Linked DNA regions of Homo sapiens: region 2 is linked to region 1. A link means that fine-mapping ties the variant in region 1 to the expression of a gene that starts in the linked region. Tissue or cell type: fibroblasts. Region 1 holds a variant in brackets; the other region holds the start of a gene. All regions are shown on one strand. Distances are from middle to middle.

What was found. PIP is the estimated chance that this variant, and not a neighbour inherited with it, causes the effect.
Region 2: it holds the start of SRGAP1, and the variant in region 1 is fine-mapped to the expression of SRGAP1 in fibroblasts (GTEx, PIP above 0.99).

Annotation. Positions count from the first base shown.
Region 1 is chr12:64,167,727-64,175,855 of GRCh38, forward strand. No RefSeq gene overlaps it. Among named protein-coding and RNA genes, the nearest start is that of KICS2, 51 kb to the right of the region's middle. The variant G/A (reference allele first, on the strand shown) is at 4,174.
Region 2 is chr12:63,841,518-63,849,646 of GRCh38, forward strand. It overlaps SRGAP1 (SLIT-ROBO Rho GTPase activating protein 1), which reads left to right and starts at 3,183. Exons shown (of 22, transcript NM_020762.4): 1 at 3,183-3,366. The coding sequence starts at 3,300. RefSeq lists silencers at 2,116-2,535, 2,596-2,655, 2,766-3,025 and enhancers at 2,188-2,689, 2,690-3,189.

The DNA.
Region 1 (8,129 bases):
ATGAAAACACATGGACACAGGGAGGGGACCAACACACACTGGGGCCTGTAGGGGGTTTGGGTGAGGAGAGAGAGATTTAGGAAAAATGGCTAATGCATGCTGGGCATAATACCTTCGTGATGGGTTGATAGGTGCAGCAAACCACCATGGTACACGTTTACCTGTATAACAAACCTGCACATCCTGCATATGTACCCCAGAACTTAAAATTAAAATTTAAAAGAAGAAAGAGATGATGGCTTGGAAAGGACTCAGCCAGAACTTATCCTCGTTTTACCTGGTTTAATCACTTTAGCATTTAGAAGCAGAACCATGGCAGAAAGTGTTTTGTTTCATCTTAGAGGTATTCTAGTTTCTCTCTTTTTTTTTTAACAAAAAAAATATATTTTTAAAGGAAAAAATAAAGGTGATCAAAAATGAGTAAAATTGGCCAGGCGCAGTGGCGCATGCCTGCAATCCCAGCACTTTGGGAGGCCAAGGCGGGCTGACTGCCTGAGGTCAGGAGTTCAAGACCAGTCTAGCCAACATGGTGAAACCCTATCTCTGCTAAAAATACAAAAAAATTAGTTGGGCATGGTGGTATTCACCTGTAATTCCAGCTACTCAGGAGGCTGAGGCAGGGGAATGGCTTGAACCAGGGAGGTGGAGGTTGCAGTGAGCAGAGATCGCACCACTGCACTCTGGGGAAGAGAGCGAGACTCCATCTCAAAAAAAAAAAAAAAAAAAAAGGGCCAGGCATGGTGGCTCACAGCTATAATCCCAACACTTTGGGAGGTCGAGGCAGGCGAATCACCTGAGGTCAGGAGTTCAAGACCAGCCTGACCAACATGGAGAAACCCTGTCTCTACTAAAAATACAAAATTAGCCATGCGTGGTGGCACATGCCTGTAGTCCCAGCTACTCGGGAGGCTGAGGCTGGAGAATCGCTTGAACCCAGGAGGCAGAGGTTGCGGTGAGCTGAGATCATGCCACTGCACTCCAGCCTGGGCAACAAGAGCCAAACTTCGTCTCCAAAAAAAAAAAAGAAATGAGGAAAATTTGTTTAGCATGGTGTGAAACAAGATACATAATAATATTCACTGAATAAAGAAAATACTCAACCAAAACAAAACAAATAAATAAAATGGTCATCCATAACAGCTCATAAATCTCCACTTGGAAAAAGAAAAGTTACAATATATCTTGTTTAGAATGGGAGTGTATTGATGAAGAAAAAATAGTAAGCCTCATTGCCAGAGAACCAAATGCCTCCAATGATGTAAATAGGGAAGAAGGGGTTCCAATATATCTGCTTATGTACCCCTCAAAATAACTTATGGAAACTGGGGATAACTTACATTGAATAGAGGAAATTTCAAAATAAGAATCCATGGCCAGGCATGGTGGCTCATGCCTGTAATCCCGACACTTTGGGAGGCCAAGGCGGGGAGATCACTTGAAGTCAAGAGTTCCAGACCAGCCTGGGCAACATGGCAAAACCCCATCTCTACCAAAAATATAAAAAATTAGCTGGGCATGGCAGTGCACACCTGTGGTCCCAGCTACTCAGGAGGAGCTACTTCAGTGGGAGGATCGTTTGACTTGAGCCTGGGAGGCAGAGGTCACAGTGAGCCGAGACTGTGCCACTGCACTCCAGACTGAGCAATAGAGTAAGACCCCGTCTGAAAATAAAAATAAGAAGAATTCATATTAGGTCATATGCAGATCATGGTTTTAAAAGTCTACTAGAATTGAGAAATATTCTTAGAATGAAGATAACTGAGTCTTGGCAATGCAAGATGAGCAGAAAAAATTCTGTAAAATAATTACCAGGAAGTTCTAGACCTGGAAATATATTGGTCACAGTGAAGACAGGAGATAGCAGTGGTGCGATCTCAGCTCACTGCAGCCTCTGCCCCTGGGTTCAAGCGATTCTCCTGCCTCAGCCTCCCGAGTAGCTGGGATTACAGGTGCGCACCACCACGCCTGGCTAATGTTTGTATTTTTAGTAGAGACGAGGTTTCGCCATACTGGCCAGGCTAGTCTCAAACTCCTGACCTCAGGTGATCCACCCACCTCAGCCTCCCAAAGTGCTGGCATTACAGGCATGAGCCACTGTGCCCGGCCGCACCATCCTTATTACACTCTAGAGTTACACTGCCTGCGCTCCAACCTCTAACTGCTAGTCACAGTAAAATTTCCAAAAGTCCATCTATTCCCTCTTAGGCTCTCATTCCTCCCATATTATGGGCCTTGAGGTTCCTTCTTGCTTCGAAGTGCTTCAGGGGATGCAGTAGTTGTCTCCTTGGTCCTGTACTGATATGCTGAATATGGCAAAGAAGCACCAACAGTTGAGTAGTTGCTGGCCTTTTTGAGAGCTGTGTCCAAAGCACAGTACTGGACAACATCCCTGCCTGCAGGGTAAACACAGCAGCAGCTTCCTCCGAAGCAGCGAATCTAAAATTGCCAACGCTAACACAAAGAATCAGAGGAACATGTTGGCACATGACTGAGAGGCTCAAACAATTACACAGAAGGAGTAAATAAGCATTTCAGTAAAACAGATGCTACAGGCAACATATCACATAATTGTGCCTAGTAGGTGAAGGAAGTACTTTTCTCCTTAGCATATCTTTGGTGGTAATTATTTGTCAGTTTGCCCAACTGGTGGAACAAATGAGATCATTTTCTCATTTACAGCTATTCTAGAAAAAGCAATAGAGAGAGTTGACTTAAAATGTAATGTTATTTTAAACTATGCAAGATATATTAACTTGTTAATACATGTAAATTTTCTACTTGTCCCTTTGTCATTATATCATGGATATAGGAAACAAAAGGAAGAATTATGTATGCATGGATATAGGAAACAAAAGGAAGAAACAAAAGGAAGAATTATGAAGAATTATGAGTCAGGATAAGCACTCCCATGAACTAGAAAGTCCCTGAGTTAAAGAGTTAAGGAATTTGGTATCCTTCTTTCTGAGTTAAGGAATCTGGTATCCAGAGAATAAATGATAAAAATATCAATGTTACATTTCTGCATGCAGCTGGAAGCAAGACAGGCTTCATAACGGTTCTAGACTTCCACTGTTTACGGTTTACATGGGCATCCTTTTCCTTTCCTCTTCTTTTTTTAAATGTACATGCTATGGATCTATATTGTGACTTAGCTCTTAGCACCTCACAAAAGTCTGCTTGTTTTAGCCCCATGAGCATCTACAGCTTTCTCAGCTCTTTGCTGGGAAGAGGCTTTTAGGGTGGATGTTTATACTACACTTAAGAAAGAATTCCTTCTGCTCTGATGAGCAGGAAAGACAGTTAAAGACAAAAATAAGTCAATAATCTTTAAAAAGGGGAACACATCATCTCACTTCTTCACGCAAACCCCCCATGACACTGAACCCTTAAATGCAGATAAGCCTAAAACTATATATAACCCTGGACTTAGCAGTTTTATATGCTAATGCATTTCCGTTTTCTTTAACTCAAGGTAGTTTGAGTTGTCACTAGCAACAGTTTAGATTAATACAGACACCAAATTATTAACAGTAATTATCTTCTAGTAGTGAAATTACAGGTGACTATTTTTCCTTTCCGTTTTGTTTGCTTTTTAGTATTGATAATAAATTTACTAATTTTTCAATAAAAGAAAAACTAAGGCATTATTTTAATGTATGGAGGAGAGAGATGGAACTTCACTGGGGATGGAGAGCTGATGGACACCCAATCAACCTAAGAAAAGGATGCTTCTTGGCTATCTCCACTCCCTACTCCACTTCCAGGGTTCTCTCGAACTCCATTCCCCACCCCCAATCCCAACACTCAGGTTTCTTGCATAATCCAATTTTTTAAATCCAGAGATAGGGGAACAGCATTAATAATTTCTGAAAGTCTCTGCCAAGTCTGTGATTTTCAGAATGACCCCTATTCCTGCTTGGGTCATAATTTAACTCTAATTAAATCTAAGGTTGGTGCTGTATTTTTCTGTGCAAGAGAAAAGCACAGAATATGAGAAATTCTTTTTTCTTTCCAGTAAACACTTTCATACTTAAAGAAAAAGAGAACAACTATTGATGGGACTTTGGACACGGACAGCTAGAAATTCCATTGAAGTTAGTTTGAACTTGTTGAGCATGTTTCATTTGCAAAGAACAAAAAAAAAATGGGCATAATTTGCTGCTGGAAAGAGTT[G/A]GTCACCTACCTCCTCATTCAAGCTCCTCATTCAAGGAAGTGACACTATTACCATGAGGAGTCATGGAATGTATCTGGGGACTGACTCATCTGGGGCTCCCTAAGACAGGCTCTGGGTCTCTCTGGAAATTTGGATAACAATTTGGGACCTGTGGCCATCTCAAGGTTCTTGTCTGTGACCAGTAAGTCTGGGCAGAGGACAAAGAGTATCAGCATTCATTTTGGCAAGCAAAATAAACTGACTCTGGATAATTTATGCAAAAGCTGAATTTATTTAAAGCTATTTTAGTAGTTCAGAGAACCTGCAGGAAGACCAGAAAATTAGGCTTGAGGGTCTCCTAGCTAGGAACTCACTCAGGGTTATGCCACAGAAATGATTAGAAGACATCACTGCCTCTGTCACTGTCCCTGGACTCAGACCCAGCAGCCAGTATCTACCACCCCCAACACTACCTCTAGGCAGGCAGACAGGCAGGCAGGGAGGGAGGGAGGGAGGAAGGAAGGAAGGAAGGAAGGGAGGGAGGGAGGGAGGGAGGGAGGGAGGGAGGAAGGAAAAGAGGAGGGAGGAGGGAGGAAGGAAAAAATGGGACGAAGGGAGGAGGGAAAGAATGAAGGGAGAAAGGAAAAAAGGAGGACTGAAGGAAGAAGGGAGGAGGGAGAGAGGAAAGGAGGGAGGGAGGAAAGAAAAAGATTGCCTAACTATAACAGCAAGCCAGTTGGTGGTAGTACCTTCATGCCCTTTCTTCCCTGCAGGGGACATTGCTGGACACCTTTCTGATGGATTATTTCTTATAGGTTGGTTGGGAGCCCTGAACACACTGAGTCTGCCCCAAGCAAGATGAGCAGTTCTCACCTTATGGCCACCTCTTCACTTCCTGCTGGGGCCTTCCAGCATGGCTCATAGAGTGATCACTGGCTTCACTTCCTTTGGCTGAAGCTCATCTGCCATATCTTCTTTGAAAGCAAAGAAGCTATTTTAATAAAGCCCAAGGAGGTTAGCAAGAAATTATTTCTGCTCTGGAATATGGGCTCTGTTGTCACATCATCTAAGAGAACCTACAAATCTAGACTTTTGTGTAAATTTGAAAATTATTCCAGTCTTGCATCTTAATCTTCAGTTTGTAATCCTTAAGGGAACTCAAATCTTAGTCCAAGAAGAGGCCTTTAAAAAAAAGGGCATTTCTGCCCCCCACCCCCACCCCATCTGCTCTTCTTGCCTCGTTTAATAACACCTTACTTCTCACAAACCCCTTCTGATGTTGTCCATCTCACTAGGCCAAGGAAACCCAGCTATGCTCCCAGGAACATCAAGAGATTGCTTCCTTACCACCCCCTGACCCCTTACCTACTCCTGTGCCCCAACACTGCAGAGAATGGTGAAGTATTTCTGTCTGATTTCATGAAGCTTGTCACCATTTCTTTCAGATCCCAGCCAGGGAGTTGCTGGAAACAATCAACAATGAAAATAATATGGTGTTGCAGTCTGCTATGGGCTGAAGTGTGTCCCCTTAAAATATATGTTGAAACCCTAACTCCCAGCACTCAGGATGTGACTGTATTTGGAGACAGGGCCTTTGAAGAGGCGATTAGGTTAAAATGATGCTGTTAAGGTGGGCCCTAATCCAATCTGACTGGTGTTCTTTTAAGAAGAGGAAATTTGGACAAACATAAGAGACACCAGGGATATGTGCACACAGAGGAAAGGGCACATGAGGACTCAGGGTAAAGGTCACCATCTACAAGCCCAGGAGAGAGGCCTCAGGAGAAACCAGATCTGCTGACACTCCCATCTGGAACTCCAAGGCTCCAGAACTGAGATAAGATACATTTCGGCTGTCTAAGTCACCTGGCCTGTGGTAATTTGTTATAGCTCCAGCAGGCCAATCCACAGGCACCGGAGGGAGGCAATAGGCAGTAAAAAGGGGGAGGATCTCAGACAAAAGCCCAGCCTCCTCCTTATGCAGGATTGGAACCCTCAGGTCACAGAGCCTGAGTTCGGATACAGGGGGTGTTCGACCCAGCAAGGTCTACTGAGCCTCCCGCAGGATTTCATGTAAAGTAGTGTATCTATAATAATGAGGGGTTACAGATTATAGGAAAGGCTCTTAGAGGTTCCTTCTAAATCCCCAAGGGATTTTCCTTCATTACAGAATGTGAGAATTACTGTCACAAATATCCTGTAAAAATTCTATAGCAGCAAACTCGCAGTATAAAAATATACCAAAAGGTCTTTTCCAGAGTTCATGTTAATACAACAAAAATAATCTCAGAAAAATTTAGAGGTCCATGAATTCAGATTTGATCCAATATATTTTCTCTAAAATCTCTAACAATCCCCAGATTTAGCCAACCCGATAATATTACCACTTATGGCTGGGTACAGTGGCTCACACCTGTAATCCCAGCACTTTGGGAGGCCAAGGCAGGTGGATCACCTGAGGCCAGGAGTTCGACACCAGCATGACCCACATAGTGAAACTCCATCTCTACTAAAAATATGAAAATTAGCTGGGCGTGGTTATGGGCGCCTGTAATCCCAGCTACTCGGGAGGCTGAGGCAGGAGAATCGCTTGAACCTGAGAGGCGGAGGTTGCAGTGAGCCGAGATAGCGTCACTGCACTCCAGCCTGGGTGACAAGAGCAAAACTCCATCTCAAAACAAACAAACAACAACAACAAATATATATATATATGTATGTGTGTGTGTGTGTATACATATACACACATATATACATATATACTTATATATATACGTATATATGTACACATACGTATACATATGTATACATACGTATATGTATATATACGTATATATATAACCACTTATTCTTTTCTAGAATCTCAAAATAAGCAGCTAAATTAATTCCTTGGGAGAAGTCAAGAAAAAGGTCACTCAAGTCTGCGTAACAAGTGAACAAGATCTATTTCCCATTGATGATCCCACAGAGTGGACTCTAAGCAAAAAGGAATAAAACCCCCATCAGCCCAGGGAGGGAAAAAGAGCCAGGCTTCTGGTGCTTCTCAAAAGGATCTGCCTTAAAGTACAATTCTGATAAACACCTCAGTGAGGAACAGGTGATTGCAATGCATTGGTAGAAGTCTCATTTATCATTTAGTCCAATATAATTATTCTGACCTATTCTATTTCATACCAAAATAACTTTGGAGGAATCCAATGGAGTTTGGCAGAAACACTTTTGGGGGGATGAAAAGAAACGTAGCTTTTGCAGTGTCATTCTTTAATATGAGCCACAAAAGACTGTGTAGGGGTGGGGGTGTCTACTCAAATCACAGAGGTGAAAAGACTTAAGACATGAGATCCAAGAATAAGAAAAGATTTATAGATCCTAAAATGTATAGAGTATGAAAATGGACACCCTTTAAAAGTATTGTATGACATGGTCAAGTTTTAAGGAAAGAAAGAAAGAAAGGGCTTAATGAATCCACCTCTTCTAAAGAAATTGGTCCCCCAAATTTCCATTTCATTGCCATGACAACTAGTACTCCATCATTGCCATGGTAACCAGCTGAATAGCATTAGTCTAAAGACAAGCTCTCTGATTGGGTGACCAACGAAAGCCAGTAGGTGCCCCACCACAATGCTGAAAGACTGTTTTGCAATCACTTTGACCTATTTCTAGCTTTTCAATGTGTTTTAATTCTCCAAAGTGTTTCCCTAAAACCAAATGTTTTTTGGAATGAGACAATTTCAAGAAGTGCATAATAACTGTATTCCTGCATCTCCCTGCTAAGTTCAAGACCTTGTTTTCTATCCCAGAAGTGTGGTAATGTATGACAGCCATACCCTTCACCATGACTTGCAGTTTAATTATGACATCCCCTCTGTTACAGCAACTAGGCATGCTAGCCACATCTAAACCAGATGTTGGTTGCTGGTGACAACAAGCTGCCTTCTTTGTTTGATGAGGCCACTGACAAGTTGAACTGCAAGGAAAC
Region 2 (8,129 bases), 330 kb before region 1:
ACATACCCACATACTATCAGCTGACACATGCATATACATATATTACAATTTTTTACATTATTTTTCACCATCTAGCAGAGATCTGGTATCTTAGTGGAAGATATCTTGTCACTCTATTTGCAATTCCTCTAGAGTATAACACTCTTCCTTTTCCCTGGAATGCATCCCTTTTCCTCCCTAAAGTTGCCAGCTACTTACTATTCATCCTTTAAATCCAGCTCAAAACCACTCCTCTGCGAACTCTTACACCCAATCCTCTTATGCAGTCTGTTTTTCCATCCCCAGTGCTCCCAAGACTGGGAGTATTTCTATCTCTTACAGCATTATTGTACTGCTTGTAATTATTTATTTATACAGTAATAGACTGCATGATCCTTTCCGGCAGTCTTAATCTTTGAATCCCTAGTTCCTAGCGTGGTGTTTGGCACAGAGTTAAGAACTGGAGAGCCGATCACTGGATACATGAAAGAATGATCAAAGTCTAAAAGTCCCTACTTTCTTTAGATCTTGTGGGGAAAACACTTGAGGGGATACACCTTTGGACACATCATTTTGATAAATCAGGCCCATAATATTTGAGAATTGATTTGAAAGGAGTCAGTAAATATCTCAAGTGGTGTGAGTCAAAAAGGCTAACAGAACCAGGTGTGGTGGCTGATGCTTGTAATCCCAGTGCTTTGGGAGGCTGAGGTCGGAGGATTTTCTTTTTTTTTTTTTTTTTTTTTTTTGAGAAGGAGTCTCCCTCTGTCGCCCAGGCTGGAGTGCAGTGGTGCAATCTTGGCTCACTGCAACCTCCACCTCCTGGGTTCAAGCGATTCTCCTGCCTCCGCCTCCTGAGTAGCTGGGATTATAGGCACATGCCACCATGCCCGGCTAAGTTTTATATTTTTAGTAGAGATGGGGTTTCACCATGTTGGCCAGGCTGGTCTCGGACTCTTGACCTTGTGATCTGCCCACCTCGGCCTCCCAAAGTGCTGGGATTACTGGTGTAAACCACCGTGCCCAGCCAGAATCTTTTGAGGCCAGGAGTTTGAGACCAGCCTGGGCCATAGAGCAAGGCTTCATCTCTACAAAAAAGTAAAAATAATAAAAAAAAATTTAAAAGGCTGGCAAGGATGGATTTAAAGTACTTAACACAACACCTGAACCATGCAAAGATGGCAAGGTAAATTCTTCGTTATATTGTTCAAAAAGAGACTAGAGTTTGAGACCAGCCTGGACAACATAGGGAGACCCCCGTCTGTACTAAAATGAAAACAAACAAACAAATAAAATAAAAAGAGACTAGACACGATAGATCTTGTAAAAGGTATCTATTAAAAACGTGGCCGGGCGCCGTGGCTCACACCTGTAATCCTACCACTTTGGGAGGCCGAGGTGAGCGGATCACTTGAGGTCAGGAGTTCAAGACCAGCCTGACCAACATGGCAAAACCCTGTTTCTACTAAAGATACAAAAATTACCCAGGCACGGTGGCGGGCGCCTGTAGTCACACCTACTCTGGAGGCTGAGCCAGGAGAATCACTTGAACCCGGGAGGCGGAGGTTGCAGTGAGCGGAGCTCGTGCCCCTGCACTCCAGCCTGGGCGAGAGTGAGACCCCGTCTCAAAAAAAACCCCCAAAAAACAAAATCAAAAAACAAAAACAAAAACAACCGTAAAAGTACTAAGTGCAATGTAGTGTCCTGTGTTGGATCTTGGAACAGAAAAAATGACACTAGTCGAAAAAATTGGTAAAATTGGAATAAAATCTGGAGTTTAGTAAATAAATAAGCTAACAACGCCGTTAAGTGTGACGTGTTTCCATACCATCGCTTTCCTACCATCCTAGCTTCCCTATCTACTGTAGGAATAGAGGATATGGTGTTCAAGGTGGGTGTTTTTCTCCGCCTCGATTGAAGAGCTTCGCGCTCTTTGGATTAACAGCCAGGTCATTCACAATTCAGTGTTCAGTTTTTCTATTGGGGTCCAGCGTCTCGGAGTAACATCCCTTTGTGTCATGGATACATCCAACTCTGGACTTCCCCATTAGATTCTGGCAAAAGCCCCACCAGAGCCCCCGCCAGAGCCAGAAGGCGGTCCCTCAGGTCAGGAAGGGGTTTTCCTGCCGCCGGAGCCGCGACCTCGGCTAGCGGTGGAGCGGGGCTTCGGCGGAGGGAGGTGCGGGGCCTCGGCGGAGGGAGGTGCCGGGGGCGCCGCCCACGGCCTCCTGGGCTCGGCGCGCGGGGCCGGGCTGCGGTTGGCCACAAGAGGCATCCATCTTCCCGGACCAGCCAGGCGTTTCCTAGCGGAGCAGGGGCGGGAGCTTGGACGGAGAAGGGCACAGGCCGGAGCGCGGTCCGCTCCCGCGAGCCTGGCCCCGCCTGGCGGAGCCCCGAGGAGCCACCGCCCGCAGATCGCTAGCCGGGCGCCCGCGAGGCGCGAGCCGTGTGCGCACCCTCAACTTTGCTGCCGCCGGGGGCGCGGCTCCCGCGTGCGTGTGCGAGTGTGCCTGTCACTAGCGGCCTCCTGGGGGCAGCAGCGGAAAGGGGGACGCAGAGAAAGGCAGCCTCGGCGCACCGCGGCCAGGGAGGCAGAGGCCCCTCGCGGCGCCGGCTCTGGAGACCTAAACTCCGCCGGGGCTGTGCCCAGGGCGCGTCTGAGCGTCGCCGCCTTCACCCTCTCAGCAGCAGCGGGGACTCGCGTCAGGACTGCGATTCCTTTCGCCTGCCGAGCTGTAGCGGCAGTGTCTGCGGGCAGAGGAGCGGCGGCCGTGGCAGCAGCATCCCCAGCCCGGGCGGGACCCTTGAGCGCCGGAGCCGACAGCTGGAGGCAGGAAGGGAGGGTTGTGGCGCCCGAGCTGGGCGCGTTCCCAGCGCCTGCCCTCCGCCGCTGGCCCTGTCCCGGGCGCCCGGTGCGGGTCTCGAACAATGGTGCGGAGCGCCGGCGCGAGCCCCGCGCCCGCCCAGCGGCCGTAGAGGAAGTGGCCGGGCTCCCGGCGAGGTGGGCAGGGAGACGTCCCCCGCCACTCGCTGGCTGGAGTTTGCCTGCGCGTCCGGCCTCTCCCCCGGGGATCCCCTGGGATTACCGACGGAGCTCAATTTCGAGAGTATGGTGCCAGCGCCCGGGCTAATCTAGTCCTCTCTACTCGCTCTTTTTCCCCTCCTCCTCCTACTTCTCCTCTCCCTCCTCCCTTCCCTCGGGTCGGCGCTGCCTCTGGATTGCCTGCGTGTGGGAGTACAACTCTGCCTCTCCAAGGAGAACGGGTTGTGACCACTGAACAAAACTTGCCCATTGAAAGCAAACCCGGAACAGCTGGATAATGTCCACCCCGAGCCGATTCAAGAAGGACAAAGAGATCATAGCCGAGTATGAAAGTCAAGTCAAAGGTAAGGATGGGAGCGGCTGCCTTGCTCCTTTTGTGTGCCTTCTTGTCATTGTGCTCGTGGAGTTGCGTATCTAACTTGGTGTCTGCGTGGGAGGAAGGTGGTGAGGGGACAGCTCGAGCCCTGTCTGAGCCACCTGGGCTTCCTACAAGCCAGTTAGTTCCCAGTTGCAATCCCAGTCCCGTCAAACCCACGGGGAGCTGGAAACTGGGTGACTTCCCCCGCCAGCTGCCAGCCCGCATCTCTAATGGGGAGAGAACTGGCTTTAACTTAACCACCTTCAGCTGGGCAACTTATGTGGGAAGCAGGCAGCAGTGGAGGATCCTGTCCAGCTATTATTATCACCATCATTATTCTTTTTAAATGGTAGGATTGTCACTACGTAATTTTTTTACGGAATGATTTTTGTAAAGTCTGTGAACCCCAAGCGGTCTACAGCCTCATTGAGTGCAGGCTATTTCAGATATTTACACCACTCACCTATTTACACCGCTCACAATTTATTAGGGCGAGACCCCTTTTATTAAATAGCTCCCTAAAAGCCTGGCAGTTAAACGAAGCAGTGACTAGTGGAATCTGACTCTTCCTTTATAATGGGCCAGAATTCATTGCCATCTTTCACACTCACATGGGAATATTGCTTTATCATTTTCTGGAAGCCACTTGCATGTAAAATGAAGGTTTGAATATTTGAGTAGTAGTTTCAGTCCATTTACATTGTCAACTAATGAAGGAAACCTAATTAAGGCTGATTATTTTTACTTTCTATGCCTTGTGATTAAAAATATATATATTTTCTCTCCAATACAAGTATTTTGTTTTGTTACTGAAGTGTTTCGTAAACATATGTGTTACTTGAATTTTTTCCTCCTCTTTCCTGAGGTCTCAGGAGTAGCTTTCCTGATTGAGACAATGGATGGAATGTTGGGACCGCCACTGTTCTTTGACACATTCAATGCAAAGTTCATAAAGATTGCTATGTATACACCTGTGTTTATCTATGCACAGTCTTATGAAAGGGCTACGGAGAGAGGCATTACTGTACTTCCCTTGAGCAAGGGAGGAGCAGCCTGAGTGTTCTTTTGTGTGGTCAAGTTGTAAAAATGCCTGGAGTCCTGTGAGAGGACCTGGTGGAGAAATCCTGTATCATCCAGTGTGAATACAGACCAACTCATTGTGGACACTGCAGACACAATATGCAAGATAACTTAGGTTATCTTTAGGAGGACCCCTATAATGGAGTTATCTATAGGCTGACCCCTATAATGTGTTCAGGAGACACAGATTTTTGTCTGCTTGGAATTGTGATAATTTATACTTACAGGAACTTGTTTCATTGCTATGGAAGTTGTGTTAGCAGATAAGTAATTATTTTCTTAGAGCCAGGTAAACTTTCTAATGAGACTAACCTTTCTTTTTTCAGTGAGTCCAACATAGCCTAAAACCTTTCATTCCAGGGCAGTACTCTTGTTCACAACCACCATTTCTCTGTGCAGTTTTTCCACATGGCTCTTTGTGGCAGGTCTTCAAGGGGTGGCGGTCTGGTTTTTCTGCCGCCTAGAGCACTAATTGGCAAATGCACTTCCAAATGTTGATTTCTTTATGTTTGCTGTAAGGTCACTTGCCAGTGATCAAGTCCTTATTTGAAAATCAGCGAAATGGGATGTGTTGCAATGTGTCTATCAAATTCAAACGGAAGAAAAATCATGAACATGGTGAAAATCACATTTGGAGCTAAGTCTGTCCCACAGAGAATGACCTTCTCCCTATTTCCTTCAACACTTCTTCCTTCCACACACCCACGAGTCCCTAGGCTGCTTTAGGAGTCTTCACTGCACCTGCCCTGCCCTGAGTCCAGGCTTTACCTCCTCCTGCAGTACCTACACATCCAGTATCTAACCTAGATCACTACATCCATACACAAACATGGGAATAAGGGAATATCATGGAGTCAGATCATATACGCATTAAATGGCACAAATTCACCTGGTACTTCTAGGCAAATCAAGAAGAGAGTGGGAGACAAATAACAGATAAATAGTACATGAGGCCAGCTGTCCAATGCAGGGAGAGTAGGCCCCTTAGTAAGGACAGCATGGGAGACAAGACTGGTTTTTCTGTACCCTCGCAGAGTGCTAGTCTGTTATTTACAGGTATGTGTTTTGGGATCAGGTGCAGTGGTGCATGCCTGTAATCTCCGCATTTCAGGAGGCTGAGGCAGGCGGATCACTTGGGGTTAGGGGTTCAAGACCAGCCTGGCCAACATTTTGGTAGAGAAACCACATCTTTACCAAAAAATACAAAAATTAGCTAGGTGTGGTGGCACACACCTGTGGTCCCAGTGTGCCTGTGGTTCCACTTGAACCCAGGAGGCAGAGGTTACAGTGAGCCGAAATCACATCACTGCACTCCAGTCTGGGTGACAGAGTGAGACTCTGTCTAATAAATAAATAAATAAATAAAGGTATATGTATTTGGAACAAACTACTTTTTAAATTACAGTCAGCAACTTTATCTGATGATAAAAAAAAATTCTGTTCTATTGCTAAAGGAAAACCTGACTGTGTGGGACTCATTAAGACATAAGTCTAGGCCAGGCACGGTGGCTCACGCCTGTAATCCCAGCACTTTGGGAGACCGAGGTGGGCGGATCACTTGAGGCCGAGACCAGCCTGGCCAACATGGTGAAACCCTGTCCCTACTAAAAATACAAAAATTAGCCGGACATGGTGGTGCATGCCTGTAGTCCCAGCTACCCTGGAGGCTGAGTCAGGAGAATTGCTTGAACCCGGGAGGCAGAAGTTGCAGTGAGCTGAAATTGCGCCACTGCACTCCAGCCTGGCTGACAGAGTGAGACTCTGTCTCAAGAAAAACACAATGAATAAACATACATATTGGACTCTATAGGTGACTTAGGTGTGTGGGTGATTTCAAGAGTCATTTTGATTATATGTATTTTTTTTTCTACCTTCTAACTTAGAACCTAACACTCTAGAATATTTTCCCCTGTTACTCTCTCCCATTTTCCCTAATAACAACTTTATTTATCTCAGAATTTTTGAGATAATGTTTTGACCTAAAGGAATGACTTCAGATATGGAATTTTTTTATTCTTTAATTTTTATTTTATATATATATATATATAAAAGGAGTATCGGTCTGCTGCCCAGGCCAGAGTGCAGTGGCGTGGTCTCGGCTCAGTGCAACCTCCACCTCCTGGGTTCAAGTGATTCTCCTGCCTCAGCCTCTGGAGTAGTTGGAATTATATACACGCACCACCACGCCCAGTTAATTTTTGTATTTTTAGTAGAGATGGGGTTTCGACATGTTGGCCAGGCTGGTCTCGAACTCCTGACCTCAGGTGATCCACCTGCCTCTGCCTCCACCTCCCAAAGTGCTGGGATTACAGGCATGAGCCACTGCACCCGGCCCAGATATGGAATTTTGCCACTGTGGCTGCCTGCACAGGTTTTGGGAACAGACTTCATGGGGCTATTCTTAACTGTGAAAAGAACCATTCCTGGTGATAATTCGTAATTTTATGTATAAGATCATAGATGTATCTAGTTGTGTGTATCATTTTGGGCAAGTCACTTAGCCTTTCTCTGGGTTTCGGTTTTCTTATCTATAAGATAAGGAGTTGGAATTCTCTTCATCTTAAGTGTCTTTTTTTTTTCTTTTTGAGACAGAGTCTCACTCTGTCACCCAAGCTGGAGTGCAGTGACACGATCTCTGCTCTCTGAAGCCTCTGCCTTCCGGTTTCAAGTGATTCTCATGCCTCAGCCTCCTGAGTAGCTGGAAATACAAGCGTGCACCACCATGCCTGACTAATTTTTGTAATCCTAAGTGTCTTTGAATCTAATTGAAGATGTCATATCAGTTCATATTAATTGCCTCATAAAATTTTCAAGCTTTTAAAGTTTTCAGTTGGCTGCTCTGTTTTGTGGAGAATCATTTTTGCTTTCACTTTTTTTTCATAAGTTCATGGACAGTGTATAAATTGAGTTTTTGGAGAATTAAAATAGAATACAATAAAGAATACAGAAAAAACAGTAATCAAAACCACATGCAGAGAAATGTAGCACAGAATTGTAAGACAGAAGAATCAGGAATGATACAAGTGGTTAAACAGTGGATAGGTTTAAATGGGGGACAAAAGGGGACCCCAGGCAACAGTTTTAAAGAATGAATTGAACATTTCATGCCTCTTGGTCAAATTCTCAAAGACTTAGAATTAAGAGAAATAAATCTCTTGTTTGAATAGGCCATTAGAAAGCAAGCATGTCTGGAAAAGTGTATGAAACCCAAACCAGTTGACTATGCTATTTGTTAGCATCTCTGGCAAATAGCGTAGCAGTGGAAGGGATTGAATAATTGGCTAGCAGAAGGTTTTGAATTATCTGTGGACTTTAGTGATCTATGTAATTCTTGTATTCTGCAGCAAAAATATTGTGGAGCTACACATATGGGAACAATAAAGACTCATAAAGACATGTTTTATGAAGTGGAACTTATAGATGAGAGGCTGTGTTTGTTTTTAATAATGCATGTTGCTAGTTGCTAAGAATTGACAGTTATTATTTGTAGTATTTTCCTAGAGATAGCACCATATTTATCTACATGGAATATGTACAGGGAGTGCCAAGAAAATCTGTTGTTCTTTGACCACTCTGCAGCCTGACATACAAATAATACATTTTAGTAGCAGATGGAACATGAGGAAATGCCAATTTGATTTGGTATGGCCCTGCATCATGCCATAGCAA